6 linked regions of the Homo sapiens genome follow. The protein of the gene in region 4 purifies or fractionates together with the protein of the main gene of each other region. This does not show direct contact. Each region holds a gene or a part of one and is shown on either strand. Other genes may lie near its edges. The genes, in order: PSG3, LRIG1, PSG4, GAL3ST1, LRIG3 and PIGU.

The links.
Region 1: the proteins of GAL3ST1 (region 4) and PSG3 purify together in Homo sapiens (affinity purification with mass spectrometry; one large-scale study listed by BioGRID and IntAct). This does not show direct contact.
Region 2: the proteins of GAL3ST1 (region 4) and LRIG1 purify together in Homo sapiens (affinity purification with mass spectrometry; 3 studies listed by BioGRID and IntAct, with this or other methods). This does not show direct contact.
Region 3: the proteins of GAL3ST1 (region 4) and PSG4 purify together in Homo sapiens (affinity purification with mass spectrometry; 2 studies listed by BioGRID and IntAct, with this or other methods). This does not show direct contact.
Region 5: the proteins of GAL3ST1 (region 4) and LRIG3 purify together in Homo sapiens (affinity purification with mass spectrometry; 3 studies listed by BioGRID and IntAct, with this or other methods). This does not show direct contact.
Region 6: the proteins of GAL3ST1 (region 4) and PIGU purify together in Homo sapiens (affinity purification with mass spectrometry, with the first as the bait; one large-scale study listed by BioGRID). This does not show direct contact.

The regions. Positions count from the first base shown.
Region 1 is NC_000019.10:42,733,982-42,737,481, forward strand, and holds part of PSG3 (pregnancy-specific beta-1-glycoprotein 3 precursor), read right to left. Parts: intron 1-3,500.
Region 2 is NC_000003.12:66,491,023-66,494,522, forward strand, and holds part of LRIG1 (leucine-rich repeats and immunoglobulin-like domains protein 1 isoform 1 precursor), read right to left. Parts: intron 1-3,500. UniProt on the Homo sapiens protein: Acts as a feedback negative regulator of signaling by receptor tyrosine kinases, through a mechanism that involves enhancement of receptor ubiquitination and accelerated intracellular degradation.
Region 3 is NC_000019.10:43,202,839-43,206,898, forward strand, and holds the start of PSG4 (pregnancy-specific beta-1-glycoprotein 4 isoform 1 precursor), read right to left. Parts: upstream 2,801-4,060; 5' UTR 2,699-2,800; coding exon 2,635-2,698; intron 2,110-2,634; exon of another isoform or gene 2,037-2,109; coding exon of another isoform or gene 1,925-2,036; intron 1,414-1,924; coding exon 1,048-1,413; intron 1-1,047.
Region 4 is NC_000022.11:30,571,866-30,575,837, reverse strand, and holds the start of GAL3ST1 (galactosylceramide sulfotransferase), read left to right. Parts: upstream 1-1,172; 5' UTR 1,173-1,372; intron 1,373-2,968; exon of another isoform or gene 2,969-2,969; coding exon of another isoform or gene 2,970-3,035; exon of another isoform or gene 3,036-3,151; intron 3,152-3,972. UniProt on the Homo sapiens protein: Catalyzes the transfer of a sulfate group to position 3 of non-reducing beta-galactosyl residues in glycerolipids and sphingolipids, therefore participates in the biosynthesis of sulfoglycolipids.
Region 5 is NC_000012.12:58,875,505-58,879,004, reverse strand, and holds part of LRIG3 (leucine-rich repeats and immunoglobulin-like domains protein 3 isoform 2 precursor), read left to right. Parts: coding exon 1-181; intron 182-1,152; coding exon 1,153-1,605; intron 1,606-2,401; coding exon 2,402-2,560; intron 2,561-3,500. UniProt on the Homo sapiens protein: May play a role in craniofacial and inner ear morphogenesis during embryonic development. May act within the otic vesicle epithelium to control formation of the lateral semicircular canal in the inner ear, possibly by restricting the expression of NTN1.
Region 6 is NC_000020.11:34,667,093-34,670,592, forward strand, and holds part of PIGU (GPI-anchor transamidase component PIGU), read right to left. Parts: intron 1-3,500. UniProt on the Homo sapiens protein: Component of the glycosylphosphatidylinositol-anchor (GPI-anchor) transamidase (GPI-T) complex that catalyzes the formation of the linkage between a proprotein and a GPI-anchor and participates in GPI anchored protein biosynthesis.

The sequences.
Region 1 (3,500 bases), on a different chromosome or scaffold from region 4:
CTTGCAGATACTTTCTCTCATTAGACATTCTACTCTCTGATTCTGAATTTGACTACTCTATGTACCTGATATCAGTGGATTCCAGAGTGAATCAGAGTGTAGAATAGTAGTTTCCAGGAGCTGGGATCAGGGGAATAGGGCGTTGTTCTGTGGGTGTGCGGTTTCAGTTATGCAGGATGAGGAGGTTCTAGAGATCTCCTGTACAGCTTCATGCCTATAGTTCATACAGATAAAGTGCTCCTTATTCAGAAAGCTTAAAACCAAGTGTTTTGGATTTCTAATTTTTTTTATTTTGGAATATTTACAGTACATGTACTGGTTTAGCATCCCAAATCTGAAAAATTTAAAATCCACAATGCGCCAGTGAGCACTTCTTTTTAGCATCACATCAGTGGTCAGAAGGGTTGAGTTTTGGAGCATTTCAGATTGTGGATTTCTGGATTTCCGATGCTCAATTTGTAATACTGTAATTTTCCCATAAAAATTTGTCAGGAGTTTAGACCTTATGTTCTGACTCTAGTAACAACAACAGCAAAAAATTTGGAGGAAACATTGAAATGTTTTCATAAGTGGAAATTTTTACTGATGATCCAAACATCTAAGATCAATTGCTGGTAGTAGTATTTCTCTTGAGACCAAAATAAGGTTTAGGTGTGCCGTGAATTCCAGCAGGATCACATTATGCTCAAAGAAAGATGCCAAAGGTGATTTGAAATTAGCAACTCCTTAAGTAGAGAGAGTCCCGTTAAAAGGACAGAACTGGTTAGTGTGTCAATTGCATAAAGGGAGGAAGGATGCCAAACTAAAAGAAGTGATGTGTGTTATGTTAGTAAATATAGAAAGAACCTGCTTCTAATTTCTGTGCAGAGTTAGGAAAAATGGGGAGGACCCCAAAACAGGTATGTGAAATGCTTTCTTCATTTTCTCTTAAGCTCAGGAAACACCACTAGTGTTTAAGTTTGTGTGAATTAGAAAGAGTCTAAGTGAGATGCCAATGGTTTGTGTGTCTCCCCACACGCAGAACTCCAACTTATGAAAACGGCATCATCATGAGGAAACAGTTGTATGTGGCACAGGCAGTAAAGCCATCAGATAGCACCCACCTGGCCACCTCCACCTGGTCCCCAAAACCACCAGTATTCCCATTACGTGTATCTTATAGCCTTTGTAGTTGTCCCACAGCTACAAAATTTAAAAATTGCTATTGTCAAATCAAAATATTAAATATGAAGTTGAAATGTTGTTCCACTTTTTTTCCCCACTCTTGTTGAACTTTCCTGTTTCAGTTTTGGAAGTTTCTATTGACATATCCTCAAGCTAGGGATTCTTTCCTCAGCTATGTTCAGTCTACCAGTAAGTATCAAAAGCATTCTTCATGTCTCTAAAAACATTTTTTTTTTTCTGAGACAGAGTCTCGCTCTGTCACCTAGGCTGGAGTGCAGTGGCATGATCTCATCTCACTGCAAGCTCCACCTCCTGGGTTCATGCCATTCTCCTGGCTTGGCCTCCCAAATAGCTGGGACTACAAGCGCCTGCCACCACGTCCAGCTAATTTTTTGTATTTTTAGTAGAGACGGGGTTTCACCATGTTAGCCAGGATGGTCTCCATCTCCTGACCTTGTGCCTGCCTCGGCCTCCCAAAGTCCTGGGATTATAGGCATGAGCCACTGTGCCCAGCCATCTCTGAGGGATTTTAATGAGTTGTTGACTTTTGAGTTTGTTCAGCTTTTTACTTAGTGTTAGAACCGAGGAACAAATTTCAAGCTTGTTATATGCCTGACAGGAAGCCAGAAGTCTCTAGGAAGTGACCGGAGAATGTGAGCTTTATAGCAGGTTGAGGATGGAGTCACAAGTGAAATGGGTGAAATGAGCCCATGGGGTTTGGGGACTGCAGGCCTGTCCAGCCTCTGACACTCTGGTGAGTCAGTGCTAAGATTACAACAGTGACAGCAAACTAGCATGGCTGAGTCCATCTGGTATCTAGTCTCAGGCTGGCTGTCCTCACTCATTCCTGGGCATAGGCCAGGCTAACCTTGGGAGGAATTTAGTTTATTGTTTAACTTTGAAGCAAGAATGATAATTGTTCCTCTGTAAAAGTAACACCCTTACTTTGCCCAGGGACTGCCTTTGTAAAACTAGTGAAAGACCATGAGATTAAGATTATAGGAGGGAACTGAATTCTGCTAAAATGTTGGCAGAGTTTTTATAATCCTTGACTGCTCAAATGTCGTTGGGCCAGAGTTTACAAAATTTGTAACTAATTGCTCCTATAGATAACATCACTATTGTAGAACGTGAGATTGGTCTTTTGAGATGTTTCTCATTCTTTTGCATTCTGGCAACCGGCTGACCTCATCCATACCTATGACTAATGGCTCAGCCCGTCATGTGGTCCCTACCTAGAGGTGGATTCAAGCACAAACAGATCATTTCCCTCCGCCCGCATGATTCCATCACCAATCAGCAGTACTCATTTTTTAGTCCTGTGCCCCTGAAACTATCCTTGAAAATCTCTAAGCCCTGATCCACTGGGGAGGCTGATTTGAGTAATAATAAACCTCCATCCTCCTGTTTGGCAGACTTGGAGTCATTAAAATCTTTCTTTACTACAAACCACCATTTCAATACATTTGTGTGTGTGTGTGTGTGTGTGTGTGTGTGTGTGTGTGTGTGTGTGTGCAGGAGGCCAGAAGAACTTGTCTGGCAATTATAAGAGTGGATGGAGAAACTGCCTATCCCTGTCCCATGGTCTTGTCCACAGGTCAGCCTCACAAAGGGAAAGAGCCCTGGATGGGAATACAGTGGAAACTCATTCTCTTAGTGACCTGGGGACATTGGCTCTAGAGGAAGCCTGGCAGGAGTGGCAACTCCAGGTGATTTCTGCACCTTTCCTATTTCCTGGGAGGTGGGCCAGGCCACAGTGTTAGCGGGAAGGGAACTGAACAGTCAGCCTAGTTAGAGGGAGTGTCTGGGGAAGACCTAGGGGTGGGGGAAGAAGCTGTGCAGGACAGGGCTTGCCAGTCAGAATGAAGTGGGAGGAAGATGAGGGACACAGAGAAGCAGAGAGAGGCAGAGACACCATGGCAGTGAGCAGTGAGGGCTACACTGACTTCAGAGACCCCAGGGACCAGGTGCCCCCAGTTCCACAGTCCAGGACCAAGGAGCCCTGAGAACCCTCCGGTGGCCAAAGAGCTTCAGAGTTACATGAGGTGGGGTTGCTTTAGGGTCAAGAGGTAGTGGGGGGATGAAACGTGGGTGTCAGCCTCTGAAGGACAAGGGACAGGTGTGGCTAGAACCTCCTAGGATTCTGCATGCAAATTCAGTCTCTAAAGAGGTTTTGGATCATTCATTTCTTCATTCCATTTCTTCATTTGTTATGTAAGAGCTCCTGAGTGTGTCTGTCTCGCTGGGCCTATGGTGGTGTAGGGTGTGAGTGGGGAAAGAAAACAAGGTCCTCTCCTTGATCCTCTTGTGACAGTGACATGGACACTTTGGGAAAC
Region 2 (3,500 bases), on a different chromosome or scaffold from region 4:
TGCAGCAGCTACTTGGAGAACACATTTTCAAATCTGTGTGAAGTTTAAATCAAGCACAGAGGGTTCCAGGAACCTAGTTCTTTGCTTTTTGAAGATTTTTCTTACAGGCTGCCTCTAACTCTATTTAAAGCAGCCTCAAGTAGCCACAGCTGGAGGGTCAGGCCTTACAAAGTAAACAATAGTTAACTCAATTCAGACTCATGACTTAACTACAACCAACGGCTAATTATCCCTCTACTAAACAACAGTATCTGAGACATCACTTTTTAAATGATCTATTCCATTTCTAATTATGTTTGTTCACTAATGGATTTTAATCAACAATTAATAGCTTGGTAGAAACCTCCCAAGTAAGAGCTATGTGGAGAAAGTGGAAGGTTAATCAGAATTGCACATTCTGGCAGAGGACTAGCACAAAAGAGCTTGCTAAACACCTCCTACAAAAGAAAAAAAATCTGTATTTTGAGAACATATAAACTAGGGTGCACACAGAATGTGCCCAATAAACATTCTGTAAATATATAGCTTACCAAAACGCCCTTTGGAAAAACACAGTTAAAATGAATGTCAATTTTTTCAAAACTTCCAATTTCTTAAAACCACCCTACAGTAAATAGTATGGTATATAAATTATATCTCAATAAAGCTGTTAACTTAAAAAAAACCTATACATTTGCAGATAAAATGATATGCCTTTGATTTATTTCCAAAGAAAAAATAAATAAATAACATGGAAGGGCAGCAGCATATTGGGAAATAGATCAAATAAGACAGCTGATGATTGTTGAAGATGGGTGACAGATACCTAGAGTTCATTACATTATTCTGTCCACTTGTGTAGATATTTACCTTTCTCCATATTCAAAAGGTAAGAAAAAACACTCCAGAGCAACAGAAGTGAGTTAGTTTATTTAAACTACCTGCCTGCATATCAACTGTTCCCTTAATTCAAAATTTTTTCTAAAAGCTATGTATTTCAGATCATCTCTCAAGAAAAAGAAGCTGTACCTGCAACAGCTTACTTTCTAATCAGTTGTAAGTTTTCTCTAAGCAGAGCCCAGCTTGTTAATTTCTTGTTATCCAGCCCAAAGTGCTAATGCTTGAGAGACAAATGCTTTCAAACAAAAGAGCACTGGAACTACAAGATTTGAAACAACAGCAAGATTATCTATCCTCCAGTTCAGAAGTGTTCAATCCTTCTCATTGCATTTAACAGGCTATCATCAAGTAGGTAATCCGGAAGAAAAGAAGTTCAGTGCAATGTATGCTTTGACCAAGATAAGCAGTAAAATATTTCAATGGCAAATTATAAATTGGTGGAAGGAGCAAAACAGGGAGGGGGAAGCTGTTAAATGCTGCATAAAGGAGTCTTAGAAAATAAAGTTGTGAGTTGTTTTTTTTCTAATCAGCTAAAAAAAAGAAGAAAAACCCTGCATTACGTTCATCGTGTTTCTCAAAGTCCAGCTAATTCTGCTTGTAAGAGAGACCTTCACTCATTTCCTTCATTTTCTTCCCAATAATGTGAGATCTTGAGAATGCAGATCATAAAAGATAAGAGATTAGAACTTTTGACCACAAAAGTTCAAAAACTAATCAACGCAAAACACTTAAAAAGAGGCCATGCTTTCTTTAAACCCTCTAAATGTCACCTTTTGCCAAAACAAACTGAACAAGCAGTAATTAGAACCTGCATCCTGGTTCATAAGGAAACCAAAATGTATTAGGACTTGCAGAAATGAACAGATTGGTTGTTCGCACAATGGGCCTTACCGGTTATGCTAGATTAAATAGTAATAAAGACGAAAACAATCGTGGCCGTTCACGTGGGCAAGGCTGTGAATCATGGCCATTCACTGGGGAAGGAACTCAGGTACAGGTGCACAAGGAGTGATAGCAAACAGTAAACAGCTTTTCAGGTGGCATCCTTGCCAGATTCCTCAAATGACCCTGTGTTCCCCGCCTGTGTCCCCTACAAAGTTACTATGCAATTCCAAACAGACCAAAACAAATGAAAAATGTTCTTTGCATACAACTCCACAATTGTCTCCTGTCCTCCCTCCTCCCTCCTCCCTCAAGGTTTTCCAAAGAGAAGCGGGTACAGTGAGGATTCAGTTAGCCCTAAAGTCTGTAACTTAACCCTGTTTGGAAGAGCACACCTGCATTTTTCCAAGCTATTGACTGAGAGGTGCTACTTGCACCTTGGTAGGGCTCAGTTTCAATGAAACCCTGGGAAATAATAGGATAAAATGATTAGTTTAAGGGCCTCTCACTTCCCTGCCACCTTCCCATACCTGCCTCCCTTCCAAAAGGATAGTGGTAAACAGACATAACTATTTGTACAACTGGAATAGATTTATAAAATACCTCAATAATTTTTGCTAATTATATAATCTGTTGCAACTGTTCATAGCTTCCTGCCTGTTTGGCTAAGATTTCCAAGGGTACATGAGGTTCACTTGTGGCACTTCATACATATCACCAAAAATCCATGGGAGAAGGCCGCTTCATACATATCACCAAAACTCACAGGAGAAGGCTGCCATCTTCCCATTCCAAAAGACTCCTTCACAGCAGAAAGGTAAACATTTCCCAGGAAAGCCTCTGTCACCAGCAATCTGGCTTGGAAGCTGGGTGTGGTAGCATGAGCCTTCTAGTCTCAGCTACTCAGGCAACTGAGATGGGAGGACTGCTTGAGCCCACGAGGCTGAGGCTGCAGTGAGTCTTGATTGCACCACTGCACTCCAGCGTGGGCAACAGAGTGAAACCCTGTCGAAAGAAAGAAAAGAAAGAAAGAAAGGAAAGAAAGAAAAAAAAGAGAGAGAGAGAGAAAGAGAAAGAAAGGAAGAAAGACGAAGGGAGGGAGGGAGGGAAAGAAGGAAAAAAAGAAAGAAGGGAGGAGAGAAAGAAAAAAGAAAAAGAAAACAGAGAAAGAAAGAAAGAAAAAGAAAAGAAAGAGAAAAAGAGAAAGAGGGAAGGGAAGGGAGTGGGGGAGGGAAGGGGAAGGGAAGAAGGAAGGAATCTGGCTTGGAGAGACTGGCTGTGAGACAGGATAATAAATTGGAGCTACTGAGGCCTTTAACCTTCAAATTGTGCTCCAGAATCATCATAAAGTAGATGGACCCAAGTTGAGGAACCTAGCTAAATATAGGCATCATCTAACTTTGTCCTCACAGCTTCTATAAGATAGAGCATTTTTCTGTCTTTTTAGACATGAAGAGGTTTGCCCAAAATCACACATGTAGCTGTAGACTGGAGGTGCCAGGGATGGACCACAGAATTAACTTTCAACCCCTTCACCGCCACTCCTTAATGACGAGTGTGAGTTGGGTGTGACCACCAGCGGCAAGAGCCCCTGCATATTTAACACAGTAAAGGTGAGGAAAGCTTTGTCCCTAGCCCATTCTCTCCCCCAGTCAATAACCCAAATGGAGACCAGGAGACAGCTGGGTAGCAAATGCCCATTTAGAAGATATAAAGAACTAAAGGCAGGAAATGAAAAG
Region 3 (4,060 bases), on a different chromosome or scaffold from region 4:
ATAAATGACTATGGGGTGCTTGGAACCCAGTAAGCCCTCACTTCTGGTGGAGGAGAGGAAGGGCCTGTGGCTGCAGACAGACCTCATGTGACCCCGATCTCCCCTTTGTGTTGGTGTGACTCTGGTTCAGTGACTGTGCCTTCCTGTGCCTCAGTTTTCTCTCAATCAAATAAGCTAAATGGCAAATGGACTGTGGCTTTTCATGCTATCTGTGAATAAATGTTAAATGATTCACAGTCACCTGACCTAATGCTTGGCACAGTGGAGGTTTCACACAAACAGCATTTATTATTAATTTGCTTCCATGAGAAAACACCTTTACATCAGATCCCTGTGGACAATCTGCTACCAGGTACATCTTCTCCTTCTGTTTCTGCTTCTGGGGACATTAGACTTTCTATGGACTCTCCTAAGCCGATGTCCTACAAAGCTTGTCTTTCTATCCTCTCCACTCTGAGTGTCAGGTGAAGAAAGCTCTGTCCTTGCCCAGATGAGGCTCTGAGGGCTGAGCCCTGGCTGGTGAACAGCTCCAGGAGACACAGTCCTCTGACAGCTGGTAAATTCTTGGTCCCAGTAAGGCCTGCCCAAGAAGGAACAACCCAGCACTGGCACAGGCTCCTCAGCTTTATCTGGAGCAAGGATTTAGGGACAGAGGTCTGGGGTTGAGGCTTCTAGGGCTGAGCTGCTCTGAGAGTATCTCAGGGGGCCCCTCAGGCCAGCCCTACTCAGTTCTCCAGGGTCTTTGTCAGCGTCAAATTTATGAAGAGGGCATGAGGTGCTTGTCTGAGACTGATCTCCTCCTGCTGAGTCCCCCCATCAGACTGTCCTTCCTCTGCAGCGAGTGTCTGCAGGGTCTGAATGCGGGAAAGGAATTCTGATCTGTTGAAATTTGTCTCCTCTGTGTGTCCTGCACTAAATGCCCAAACCCCAGCATGGGACTTAATGCAGAGAGGGACACAGGCAGAGTCCAGGCCTGAGAATCCTGTGTGTGTGAAGTAGAAGTGACCCCTGTCCCCCAACACCCAGGGATCATGTGGAATCACTCACGGTGTAAGGTGAAGGTGAAATGTCCAGTTACTCCTCCAGTCCCATCGCGTCGCTTTATGATGTGTAAGGTGTAGGATCCTGCATCCTCCTGCGTGACATTCTGGATCAGCAGGGATGCATTGGAATATACTCTTTCTCTTCCACTGTATGCAGGCCCATATATAATTCTTTGACCGTCTACTACATATGATGTAATGTAATGGTAGAGGTATGTCATTTGCCCTTTGTACCAAATGTAGCCAGCAAGATTCTGGGGCAAATTGTGGACAAGTAGAAGAACATCCTTCCCCTCAGAAACTTTGGGTGGCTGGGCTTCAATCGTGACTTGGGCAGTTGTGGGCGGATTCCAGAAGTTTAAAAGTGATGCTAGGAGGTACAGAGAGCATCAGTTAATATTGAGACCTATGTATTGGGGTGAAAAGATGGGTCCTGAGAAGGTCTCTTCAATCCTCAGCCTTGAAGACACACAAACACACACATACAAACACATACACACACTAAAGGGGCGTGAGTGTATGTGTGTGTGTCCTACTGTCCCACTAGGTCAAGATCAGCAGCATGACCCCCATTCCTTCAACACTTCTGACCTTGGCATTTTTCTTTTTGGATTCCTCTTCCCCAGGGGTCCGCACGGCCCCCTCCACACTGCCCTCAGGTCCTGCTCACATCAGGGCATCCTTAGACTTCTTTCCTGATACCTCCTTCAGAGACCCTGGGTCTTCCCTTTCTGACCTTTCCCTGCTCTCCTCCCTCCAGGGTTCTTGTCAACACCTGATCTCACATTCTAGATCACTTAGCATGTCTGTCTTCCCCCCACGATGACTGTGTGAGCTCCGTGAGGACAGGGACTTTTGTGATCTTGGTTGCACCCCAGTACCTGGAACAGGCGGCAGACTCCTGTAGATGTGAGAGTTCTCAGGGTCTCCACCCTCTGGATGTTTCTTTTTCCCCCCAATTGTTGAGGTTTCTTGCTGAGGACAGTGTTTCATGTCCTGCTTATATTTTCATTTGAAGTGTCATCTGATATAGTTATTGTTATCATTTTTCAAAATATGGTGGCCCCTGATGATTAATCAGGAAAACAGAACACTTAAGATTTTCCTACCACTTACCAATTCCGCTTCAATGTGACTTTCCTATTTTGACCCTCTGGTGTATTTTCCCCTATCCAGGCTCCAACAGAGCCTTCTTTCCCTTTTCTTCTTTTTTCTTTTTTTCCTTTTTTCTTTTTTTTTTTTTTGAGACGGAGTCTCGTCCTGTCACCCAGGCTGGTGTGCAGTAGTGCTATCTTGGCTAGCTGCAACTTCTGCCTCGTGGGTGCACGTGATTCTCCTGCCACAGCCTCCTGAGTAGCTATGATTACAGGAGCACACCACTATACCTGGTTAATTTTTTGTGTTTTTAGTAGAGACAGGGCTTCACAGTGTTGGCCAGACTGATCTTGAACTCCTGATCTCCTGATCCACCCAACTCAGCCTCCCAAAGTGCTGGCTTCTTTCATTTTTCAGAACCCCATCCTCTCCAGGAGACCCCATCCAGTCACTCTGCTTCCTCCTCCTGTCCTCTCCCAGGAAGTTCTCTCCTCACCTGTGAGCAGGACCCCCTTCCAGGTGATGCGCTGTGTGCAGGGAGGGGCTGAGAGGGGCCCCATGGTCTCTGCTGCTTGTGTGTTCTCCTCTGTGGAGATAAGCCTAGGATCCAGAAGCTTCCTGAGTACGGCTGTCAGCTGTGCTGTCCTTCCTCCTTCTGTGCTGAGCCTCCTCCCGGGGCAGGAGCATTTCTCAAGCTCGTGGGCGGGGTCAGGCCCAGGACACCTCTCTGTCCCCTCCTCTCTCAGTTCTGCCTCCTTGTCCCTCCTGTTTTTCCTTTTGTCTGTGTTTCAGGTCCCTGGGAATTGTGGAGGCCTCTGCATTTTTCAGCAGTGATTCTTTCACCAAACCTCAACACACACTTTGTGCAGATGCACACACACACACACACACACAGAAGAGACACACACGACCCACATGGTCACACACATACCCTGCAGGTTAGGCAAGCAGAGTCCTGGGCCTCAGCCTCCTGCTGTCCCCATGGCTCTGGGGTAGGGTGCACATTCACGCCCTTTACCCTCTTCCTTCCTCATCTGGCTCTCCCCTTCAGTGCAGGAGCTGCACAAGGTTCCCGTCACAGTGACGTCCCATTGTGCTGTGGGTGAGCTCTGTGTTGTCTGGTAAGAGGGACCCTTCCTTTCTCTAATCGTGTCTAGCTTGGCTGCAGCTTCCAAGGATGAACATTCAGTACCTGGGTTTCCCAGAGGAAACTATCCATCCTGGAGGTGTGCAGGGTGAATCTCTCAGGCCTCTTGGGAGGAGAGGCCTGTGCTGATTGCTCAGTGGGGGCTGTGAATCCCAGAGTCAAAGGGACAGTTCTCGGTCACTCTGTGTCTCCCTGGGGTCTGGCGGCTGAGCTGGAGCTCAGGGTTTCTCATGTTCTCCCTGACCACCTTTGATGTCCTCTCTTCTCTGCCCAGCTGATTGTCCTGTGGTCACCACACCTTCCCCGTGGTGGTGCAGGAGGAAGTGGGGAGTTACCCAGGAACCCCGCGGGACATGGCTTGTTGAGACGCAGGAGGGGGAGCCTGGGACAGAGCAGGGGTTCAGAGCTGGAGAGATTCATCCCGACTTACTCCGTGGCCATGATGGGCTCAGCCCTCCCTGTGCTGACATACCCAGGGGTCTGTCCTGAGGGTTTTGACCTGGCCAAGCTGCTCTCTGTAGAGGAGGAACAGGCAGTGGCCAGAGAGCCTGTCTGGAGGGACCTTGCTCACACCTGAGAGGGCGGGTGGGGGTGAGTTGTGTTCTGGGAGCAAAGAAAAATAACACCCCCCTTCTCCCCACAAGCACACAGGAGAGGTCTGTCTTCCCAAGGGACAGCTGGTGGCAGGTGGCCACATCCCGGATGGTGCCTGTGTGTGACCATCACACGCTCTCTGCGCCCCCTGGGCTGCAGTGGGCAGGCAGGACACAGGGTG
Region 4 (3,972 bases):
CCTGAGGGCCTTGCCCTCTGCCTCTCACTGTTTGCTGGCTGTGTGGGCAGAGAATGTTTTTGTGGCAGTGGATGTAGGTCCAACCTGTGCAGGGGGAAGGCAAGAGCTTGGGCAGGCTCTGGCCTGGGGAGCAGAAAACCTAGGGCTCCCCCTCTCAGCTGGGACTGGCTGTGGGTGGAAGGAGAGGGCTGTGTGCCATTCCCACTCTGTCATGCACACGGCGATGGGAGGGAGTGAGGTTGCCTCCAGAGGCTGGGACAGAGGGTCAGGACCTCTGGAGCCAGAGCCTGCAGCCCCGGGAGACAACTCAGGCCTGTCTGGGGAACTGTGCATCCAGGGCCACACGGCTAGAGCGCAGGCCCATCAGATACGGAAAAATTCCTGGCAGCCATGCTGATGTGGAATTTTCCCCATTCCAGAATCGCCCAGTAATGGCGGGGGCAGTGGGGCTCTGACGCATCCCAGGCCCCACTGGGTGGCCAGCTGGTTCCTTACTGCCCACAGCTGGCGCTGAGGATTCCTGGCCCCTGGCAGGCATTGGTCCTCATCCATGGTCTTGCTCCTCTGGGGTGAAGAAGGAAAGGCCAGGCCTGGAAAATGAGACAGGGCCTGGATGGGACACCTGCCTCCTGGTGGCCTTGCTCAGCCCTCATTGGCACCCTAGAGAGTGACAGCTGAGACCTCCAGGTGACAGGACCAGTTGGAGCTCAGTCTCTTGCTTGAGCTCCCTCCACTCCCATGAGTGCCAAAAATGTGTCGTCCCCAGTTGGCACTGACTAGAGCAAGAAGCCGTATGATCCATTGGATCCTAAGGGCCCCAGGACCCCCCAACCAAAGTTAAGCAATAGTCCGTCCGCCGCCTTTTTCCCAGAGCCCTGGCTCCCCTCCCCACCACCACCAAGCCTGGGCATCCTCAAGTCTTCTGGGCTGGGGGCTCCGTTGAGCCAGAGGACCGGGGCGGGACAATGGCCCCGTTGGCGCGTCCGAGACAAACGGGCCTTGTTGGGCCGGCGGCGGGGGCGCAGCGTTGCGCCCCAGCGCGCTGAATGCGGCTTCTGTGCGTCTCGGGCGGGCGCAGAGGGGCCGGGATGGGGCGGGGAGGGGGCCGGCCCGGGGCGGGGAGGGGTCTGGGGTCCGGGGCGTCCATTGGCCCCGGCGCCGGAGGCTGGGCCAGGCTGGCGGCGGCACCTGGCCGGGAGCGGGCGCGGCGCGGGAGCGGGCGCGGCGCGGCAGCGGCGGCGGGGGCGGGGGCATGGACCAGGCCTGGTGGAGCGGGGGGCCCGGCCGGGTGCGCCCCGCCGCCCAGTGAGCGCCCGGGCGGCGCGGCCCGGGCCGAGCCAGCCACGCTGAGGCGGAGGAGGACGGGGACAAGGTACGTCCCGGGCTCCAGCACCCACTGCCAGCTTGAGCCCTGCCTCAGTCTACTCCCTGGGGATACCGCCCACATTACGCTAACCCCCAAACTGGGACCACGCGCCGGAGGAGGGGAGTAGGAGTGCAGTACCGCTGTTCTAAGCGCTGGGTACCCCTGCCCACTGCCAGAGGGTGGCCTGGTAGGGGCCAGGGAGGGCACAGGTTGGTGCCCCCCATGCCCTTGGTTTTTTCCCCTGTCCCCCAACCCCCCTTCCAGGGCTTCCCAGTCCCTGAAGGTGGGATGGGTGGGGCAGAAGGCAGGCTGCTGGGGCTGAGCTGGAGCTGGGAGTGCGTTAATGATTAATCTTGGACACAGTGGCCAGAGCCCTAGGGGAGGAGGGGCAGAGATCTCCCCTGTCTCCATCAGCCCTTCCTAGAAAGGGGATCAGAGCAGGAACCGGAGACCATAGTAAGGGATGGATCCCCTCTGCTGGGGGAAGGCCCTGGCCTGTACCCCAGAGGAAGCAAAGCCACCAAGGAGAGGTTTGGGAGAGTGGGACAAACCCTGGCATCCAGGAGGGGTCCTATAGGAAATCCTACAGTTCCTGTTTCCTAGCCCAGTGCCCAGGAAGGGGGTCCAGCTTGATCTGCCCCTTCGGTGCCAGGCCAGCATTTTGGTACCAGCACAGAGCACACTACAGACCGAGCCCTGCCCAGTGGGAACTGCCCCGCCCAGCTGCCCAGAGCCAGAGAGGTGATGGGCATGTCTGGCTGCTGTAACCCACACCAGGGGGAAGGAAAGGGAGAGAAGGCAGCATGCCTGACACCTGATCCCCGGGCTGCCGCGGTGACAGGTGCATGAGAATCCTCCAGAGGGGAGAGAGGTGTAGAGGACTGTCCATTCCAGTTGGGAAAACCCAATCTCTTCCTTTACTGACGGGGTGACCTGAGGCCCAGAGAGGGTGAGGCTCATCCAGGCCCACACAGGGGGCACAGGAGGGCAGTCCTGGACCAGAGCAGTCACTGTGTACGCACTGTTCCTTGTCCTGTGAAGGAGGCATTGCTACCTATCCCCATTATCCAGAGGGGGATACTGAGGCTCAGGGAAATTCAATGACTTGTCCAAGGTCACATGGCTCAGAGGTAGCTGAGCTGACTCCAAATCATAGGAGTCTTGCCCTGGCCCCCATTTCAGGACCCCAGCCCAACCCATGACCTCTCTCTGCTCCTTTGGGGTCCTGCCTTCTTGGATCTGCCTGGGCTGCCCCAAACCCTCAGCTCTGGACACCCCCCCTCGCCTCCCTGGCTCCCAGCTCCGCCTGACACTTCAGCGGGTGAGCAGGCTGCTACCCCGGGAGCCGAGACAACGAAGCCCTGTTCCCAGCTGCCACCTCAGCCTGCTTTATTCCCTGCTTGCTCAGGCAGAGCCCTTCCTGGAGGAAGCTCCTTGCGGACAGAGAATGCCTGGTCCCCATGCATCCCCTTCCCTTAATGGGTCCGATGCCCTCTTGTCGCCCAGCAAGGGAGGAGTGTGTCCCCCACAGCCCCTCCCACTGTGTTCTGAGGGACTGGGTGTGCCATCCAGTGAAAGAGGCAATGATTAACCTGAGAGAATGATGCACAAATGGAATTCTGGGCCCGGCTGCAGGCTCCTGAAGGGCTCCTTGCTTCACTTTGACTGGGTGAGGAATATGGATGAGCCCTTTTAGGGGCTCCACACGACTCCAAACAGGGCAGAGCAGGATGGAACACAGGTGCCCATGGGGGTCATCAGGCTGGGGACTGCTGGAATCTCCAGGTGAGGGGTGATGGTGGGAGGAAGTGGGGGCCCAGAAGATGCCTGCCTTCCCTCCTGCTAGTTCTGGCTCCTTGGATGGGGATGGTATCCTTCTAGAAGTCTGGACAGAGCCCGCTTCCCCTACCAGGTGGGATCTAGGAGGATCACAATACAATCAGAGGAGCTAACGCTGAGTGTGTGAAGGGCTCTGCGTGCCTCACAGCAGGCCTGTGAAAGCATCATAGTACCTGCCATTTTTTAGGAAACCAAGGCTCAGAGAGGGGAAGTCACTTGCCCAAGGTCACCCAGCTTGGGGGGTGGTGGAGCCAGCATTTGTTACCAGGCGAGTTTCCAGGAATGGAGAGGTGGGTGTATGTATCTCCGGCATTGTGCATTGCAAGTGTCAATACCTTTTCACAAACCTTTATATTGTTACATAGTTTTAGGCAAATAAGCGCATAAGAATCCTTAAAAAATATTTCAGGCATGTTGTAAGGTACAGAGACTGATATTATCAACTCCTACATACTCAGCTCTGGGGTTCTCAGCATTTTTGGAGCTAATGACAAAGTGACTGACTTCTTGGTGAAGCTGTGACTTGCAACGCCCCAGTTAGCGCTTCTCTAAGGCTACTCAAATCCCCCCCTCAGGAAGCGGGGTGATTTACCCAGACAAGGCAGTGTAGCAGGAAGAGCTGTGGCCTTGCTCCTCATTTTGGCTTTGCCGTGTAGGCAAAAAAACTGAGCCTCAGTTTCCCCACACATCACATGGGGCTAGCAGAGGAGACTGGGAGTGTCTGTCAAGGTCACAGGCATGGATGCCCTTTGTTTTTGTTTTTGTTT
Region 5 (3,500 bases), on a different chromosome or scaffold from region 4:
GCCTGGCAGAAGGATGGGGGCACAGACTTCCCAGCTGCACGGGAGAGACGCATGCATGTGATGCCCGAGGATGACGTGTTCTTTATCGTGGATGTGAAGATAGAGGACATTGGGGTATACAGCTGCACAGCTCAGAACAGTGCAGGAAGTATTTCAGCAAATGCAACTCTGACTGTCCTAGGTGGGTGAATTTGTTAAGATTCTGTAGTATAAATCAGTCTTGAAGATACTAGCTCATCCAAGGTCCCTAAGTATCAGAAGTTGTGAGAGTAAGAGATGAAGATGTATGGGGCATTGCCTTTTCCTAGAAAGTATTAATGCAAATGGCCTCTTGAACACTTTGAAGTCAGGGATTGCATGACATCCTCAAGTCTGGCCACTGAGGTGAATCCCTGCCCCCTCCATCCTGAAGAGAGGGGCCGAGGAAAAGTTGGGATGCTTTCCCTTTTATGGGGGATCACCCTCCTCTAATTTCCCCACTGTGCTGTCTATATCAGTAGTCTTAACACCATAAAGAACATTAAAAAAAAATGTGGGAACAAATTGGGAAGGCCTTACTCTCTTTTCTCAGCCTACCATACCTCTCCGGAAGTCAGAGTTTTTTTTTCATCTTTTACCTAAACAAATGCTTTTTAAAAATGTAAACACAATTATTATTCACGTATCTTTGAAAGAGCTAATTAACGTAACCTATTAAGATACTAAATAATAAAAGTAAATTATTGTCAGAGTTTTAATATAGGCCCAGGCATCCGGCCCTAAAAAGTTTCACTTAAAAAACTTAAGCATTCTGATTTTTTTTATTTATCAACATACCCTTGTGCTTGAAATTATTTTTGTACTTTCTATTTTTAAAAAGCTTTTGTTTCCCACTCTCCCCCCCTACTACCAGCTTCCCGACTTTTGCAAAAGTGAGGGAAGCTGAGATTTTAAAAATAGTAGATATTATCCTTAACTGGTGTTATGAGTAAATGACAGCAGAATAGTGAAATACTGAATGTTGTATATGTTTAGGCTCTTAGAAAAGTGTGTCCAGTAAGTTGTGGGAGAATAAAATTTTAGGTTACAATTTGAATAAGTTTAAATGCTACATTTTATGATATGGAAACTAAATTTTATTTGGGAAATTAAAAGCATAACTTGTTATTTCAGAAACACCATCATTTTTGCGGCCACTGTTGGACCGAACTGTAACCAAGGGAGAAACAGCCGTCCTACAGTGCATTGCTGGAGGAAGCCCTCCCCCTAAACTGAACTGGACCAAAGATGATAGCCCATTGGTGGTAACCGAGAGGCACTTTTTTGCAGCAGGCAATCAGCTTCTGATTATTGTGGACTCAGATGTCAGTGATGCTGGGAAATACACATGTGAGATGTCTAACACCCTTGGCACTGAGAGAGGAAACGTGCGCCTCAGTGTGATCCCCACTCCAACCTGCGACTCCCCTCAGATGACAGCCCCATCGTTAGACGATGACGGATGGGCCACTGTGGGTGTCGTGATCATAGCCGTGGTTTGCTGTGTGGTGGGCACGTCACTCGTGTGGGTGGTCATCATATACCACACAAGGCGGAGGAATGAAGATTGCAGCATTACCAACACAGGTGTGTAAACAGAAGCTTGGCACAGGTCACCGGAGTCATGTGTATTTGTGGTTCTGCAAATACTTCTAGAACGTGTGTCTTGCAGTCTGAGTTCATCTCAGAAGGGTGACTCATTTGTTTCAAGCTGCAGAAATATGATTCGCTAAAAAACTCCAGCCCCAAATAAAGCTGATGTTTAAAGATTAATACTTTTTGTTAAAATGACATCAGGGTATCCTGTGGCTGTGAGATAAAATCCAAGTCACTGACTAAAATATTTCTAACTCCTTCATAAGATAGTGATGGAGAACCAGGAACAGCCCTTTAATGATAAGGTTTACTCTCTGCAGTAGTTGTATGTCTTGTTGTCTGTGCGTATGTGCATGTACTTAGGTTGGATTTTATTAGTGGAAGAGGAGCTGTGACTTGATTAGTATGTGCAAAGTCAGATATTGATTAGTAATATTAAGAAGGGAATATGGCAATAATCAAGCATAATTCGAAAGCTTAGATACTGTCCCATGAAAATTCTTAGGCCTTCAGCCTTTTAAAAAATCTGTTTAAACATTTGTTGTTTTGAAATTTGGGAGGTGCATCCAATGGGTGATAAAACAGAAAGTCAGCTTATACGTCCCAGAGCAGCAAAGCCCTAATTTGCCGTTCCAGAATACTGTACAATCGAGATGGTTTTGCCAGAGTAGATCTCCCCTAATTTGATGTATACAGAAGCCAAAATAGTCTATGCCATTCACCCGGGATGCCTGTGGGACAATTAACGATCATCCTTGGTTAATAAAATGCTGCTGTTTTATTACAGATGAGACCAACTTGCCAGCAGATATTCCTAGTTATTTGTCATCTCAGGGAACGTTAGCTGACAGGCAGGATGGGTACGTGTCTTCAGAAAGTGGAAGCCACCACCAGTTTGTCACATCTTCAGGTGCTGGATTTTTCTTACCACAACATGACAGTAGTGGTAAGTGTTTAAAATGAATGTGGGCTGTAATTGTTTTGAAGTCATATGGTGGAAGGCTCAGATATGATATTCATTTTCACAAGACATTGATAACACTGACATTTAGGACCTGGCCCAAGATCACTAGCAAGGTTGAAATTGTATAGTTCTATACCGTTCTCTTAAATACTAGGAAAGAAATAAATCTTTGTTTCTAACAATAAAAAAAGACTAGTAGGTTTAGAAAAATGTAATTATTCCATGTGTAAAGGATATTTGTGTATCCTTTACATTATAAATGTTCTTTGGCCCTTAAATGATATTAACTGGTTACATGAATGGGCTTAAAAGTCTAATGGTTTACATTATTTTCTTTAAGAAGTCTATTTTTTATTTATTTATTTTTATTTATTTGAGACGAAGTCTCGCTCTGTCACCCAGGCTGGAGTGCAGTGGCGTGGTCTCAGCTCACTGCAGCCTCCACCTGCTGGGTTCAAACGATTCTCCTGCCTCAGCCTCCCAAGTAACTGGGACTACAGCCACATGCCACCACGCCTGGCTAATGCTTTCTTTTGTTTTTGTATTTTTAGTAGAGATGGGGTTTTGCCATGTTGGCCAGGCTTGTCTTGAACTCCTGACCTCAGGTGATCTGCCTGCCTCAGCCTCCCAAAGTGCTGGGATTACAGGCGTGAGCCACCGCACCCAGCCTCTTTGAGAAGTCTAATTCTGACCCTTGCTTTCAATGCTGCATAGTTTTGAGAATAATAATGGAGACAGCATAATACAAGAGCACAGGTTTGGTACAAGACCTACTACTTACTGCATGTACTGTGGGGCACATACAATACTTTCTGGTGAGGTACTTGTGCAAATGAAATGAAGATGGAAAACTACATGGCGCTAGGCACATATTAAGGGCTCAGCAAGTGGAAGCCATCGATGTTATTCTAAAATATATGAC
Region 6 (3,500 bases), on a different chromosome or scaffold from region 4:
TGGCCTCCCAAAGTGCTAAGATTACAGGCATGAGCCACTATGCCTGGCCAATAATTCTTAGTTACCTTGGTATACTTTTCCTATGGGTGATAATAAAAGCATATCATCCTGTATAAGACAAATATTATTTTTCAGTTTCCCGTATCAATAAGGACAAAAGCTTGTTCAAAAGCAGTAGTGTCCCTATACTTCTAGCTGAGGGCCTAAGAAGCAGCATCACTCCAGCTGCAATGAACACACCTAGCATTCAGAACTTTGTTTCTAAATAACATTCTCTAATAAAAGGAGCCAGGGCCCTTGAAGAAGTGGTCAATTCCAGGGCTGAACTAAGCAAGATAAACCTGGATCATCTTATAGTTCTAGAATGTAATAAAGTGCTTTTAAAAAAAAAAAGTGAGATAGAGGTATGGCAAAAGGACAAAGGGGTCAAGATGAAAGCGGTCCCAATGGCCAAAACTAGAATAATCCAAACAACAGAATGAATATAGTATACAGAGTCCAGAGTATAAAATATCCAAATCTATACTGACATAAATAGTTAAATAAATGCAAAGAAATGACAACTCTTCCTTACAGAAGAATTTTAATTATTAAATAAAAATGAATGAGAGAAACAGAAAAGTCACCATTGAAACACCTGAGTAATGACTGTTACAGGCAAGATTAACCTATGAATGCAAAAATTAGTAGGCAAAAATTTAAAAACAGGATATTTGCAGAGCTCCAAAGAATAGCCCCTAAAATGCTGATTAATTACAAAGGGAAACAGTCACTTTATGGTGGAGAAATCTGGCAGACACTACATTAACCAAGGGATTATGGCTGACATCACCAGTATTAGGGCATTTCAATATGCACCCCTGATCCAATGCACTGAGAGGACCATATCATCTCAGGGGTATTCTTCCCCAAAATCCATTACCTCCGTCAAACCACAAGAAAACATTAGACAAAACCAAATTGAGGGACATTCTACAAAATACCTGACCAGAGCTCTTCAAAGTGTCAAGGTCATAAAAGATGAGGAAATGCTAAGGAACTATCACAGATAAACGACTAAGGAGATATAACAACTAAACGCAATATGTGGCCAGGCGCGGTGGCTCATGCCTGTAATCACAGCATTTTGGGAGGTCGAGGCAGGTGGATCACCTGAGGTCAGGAATTCGATACCAGCCTGGCCAGCATGGTGAAACCCCGTATCCACTAAAAATACAAAGATTAGCTGGCATGGTGGCAGGGACCTATAATCCCAGCTACTCGGGAGGCTAAGGCAGGAGAATCTCCTGAATCTGGGAGGTGGAGGTTGCAGTGAGCCGAGATCTCGCCACTGCACTCCAGCCTGGGTGACAGAGCGAGACTCCGTCTCAAAAAAAAAAAAAAAAAAAAAAGGGGGGGGCGGGCGTGCTGGCTCACACCCGTAATCCCAGCACTTTGGAGGCTGAAGTGGGCAAATCATGAGGTCAGGAGATCGAAACCATCCTGGCTAACATGGTGAAATCCCATCTCTACTAAAAATATAAGAAATTAGCCAGGCGAGGTGGCGGGCACCTGTAGTCCCAGCTACTCGGGAGGCTGAGGCAGGAGAATGGCATGAAACCGGAAGGCGGAGCTTGCAGTGAACCAAGATCGTGTCACTGCACTCCAGCCTGGGTGACAGAGCGAGACTCTGACTCAAAAAAATAAATAAATAAATAAATAAAATAAAAATAAAAATGCAATATGGAATATTAGATCATAGAACAGAAAAAAAATTAGTGAAAAAATGGTAAAACTTTTTTTTTTTTTTTTTTTTTTTTTTTTTTTTTACACAGGGTCTTGCTCTGGTGCCAGGCTACATACAGTGCAGTGGCATGATCATAGCTCAATGCAGCTTCCTCATCCCAGGCTCAAGCAATCCTCCCACTTCAGCTTCCCAAGTAGCTGGGACCACAGGTGTGCGCCACCAAACCAGCTAACTCTTTTTTAATTTTATGTAGAGAGGGAGTCTCCCTATGTTGCCCAGACTGGTCATAAATTCCAGAGCTCAAGGCATCCCCTCGCCTCAGCCTCCCAAAGTGCTGAGATTATAGGCATAGCCACTGTGCCCAGCAAAAATGGTAAAATCTTAACAACTATGGTTTAGTTAATAGTATTGTACCAATGCTATCATCTTAGTTTTGATCACTGTACTATGACTATGTAGGATATTAACATTGGGGGAAGCTGGGTGAAGGGTATACAGATCTCTCTGCAATATTTTTGCAAGTATTCTGTAAGTTTAAAATGATTTCAAGTAAAAAGCTAAAAAACAGGCTGGTGCAGTGACTCATGCCTGTAATCCCAGCACTTTGGGAGGCAGAGGCAGGTAGATCACTTGAGGTCAGGAATTCAAGACCAGCCTGACCAACATGGTGAAACCCTATCTCTACCAAAAATACAAAAATTAGCTGGGTGTGGTGGCACACACCTGTAATCCCAGCTACTCAGGAGGCTGAGGCAAGAGAATTGCTTGAACCCAGGAGGTGGAGGTTGCAGTAGGCCAAGATCACACCACTGCACTCCAGCCTGGGCAACAGAGTGAGACTCTGGCTGAAAAAAAAAAAAAAAAGTAAAAAACAAAAAACAGTGGTATCTAGTCTCTGGATCCAGCTGCCTATTTGCAGGAAATAGAGATGATAGAGGAACATGTTAAATTGTATCATGATATATAATCAGGAAAATTCAAACTATGGGAGATCTGTCTGGATTCTTCAATAGATAAACACTATGGAAGAGAAAGGGAACCTGGGACCCTAAAAATTAAGAGAGATTGAAAACACAAACAAAAACTTTTTTCTTAGGGGCAAGACTAAGCCTAACGGCAAATGAACTAGGGATGTTCATTTGAGTAATAAAACTTTTAAAAATACAAAGATGTCATTACATATAAAAGTCAGGATAATAGTTACTTATGAAAAGAGTGAGGGGATTGTGACGAAGGGGGGCTTCTGAAGTGAGTGGCAAAGTTCTGATTCTTGACTTGGATGACAGTTACAAAAATGTTCACCTTACAATAATTCACCATAGAATACATTGTTATGTGTGTCTTACAAATTCTGTTTAATTTTGTAATAACGGCTTTTTTTTTTTTTTTGAGACAAAGTCTTGCTCTATTGCCCAGGCTGGAGTGCAGTGGCATGATCTCAGCTCACTGCAACCTCCACCTCCTGAGTTCAAGTGATTCTCCTGCCTCAGCCTCCTGAGTAGCTGGGACTACAGGCTCCTGCCACCACACCCAGCTAATTTTTGTATTTTTAGTAGAGACAAGGTTTCACCATGTTGCCTAGGCCGGTCTCGAACTCAAGCTCAAGCAATCTACCCACCTCCCACCTTAGCCTCCCAAAGTGCTGGGATTACAGGTGTGAGCCACCTCGCCTGGCCATAAAGGCTTTTTTAAGTAGTGGTATCAGAAGTGCTCTTCCTGACCCTGATTCTTTTATTTTTGAGACAAGGTCTTGTTCTGTCGCCCAGGCTGGAGT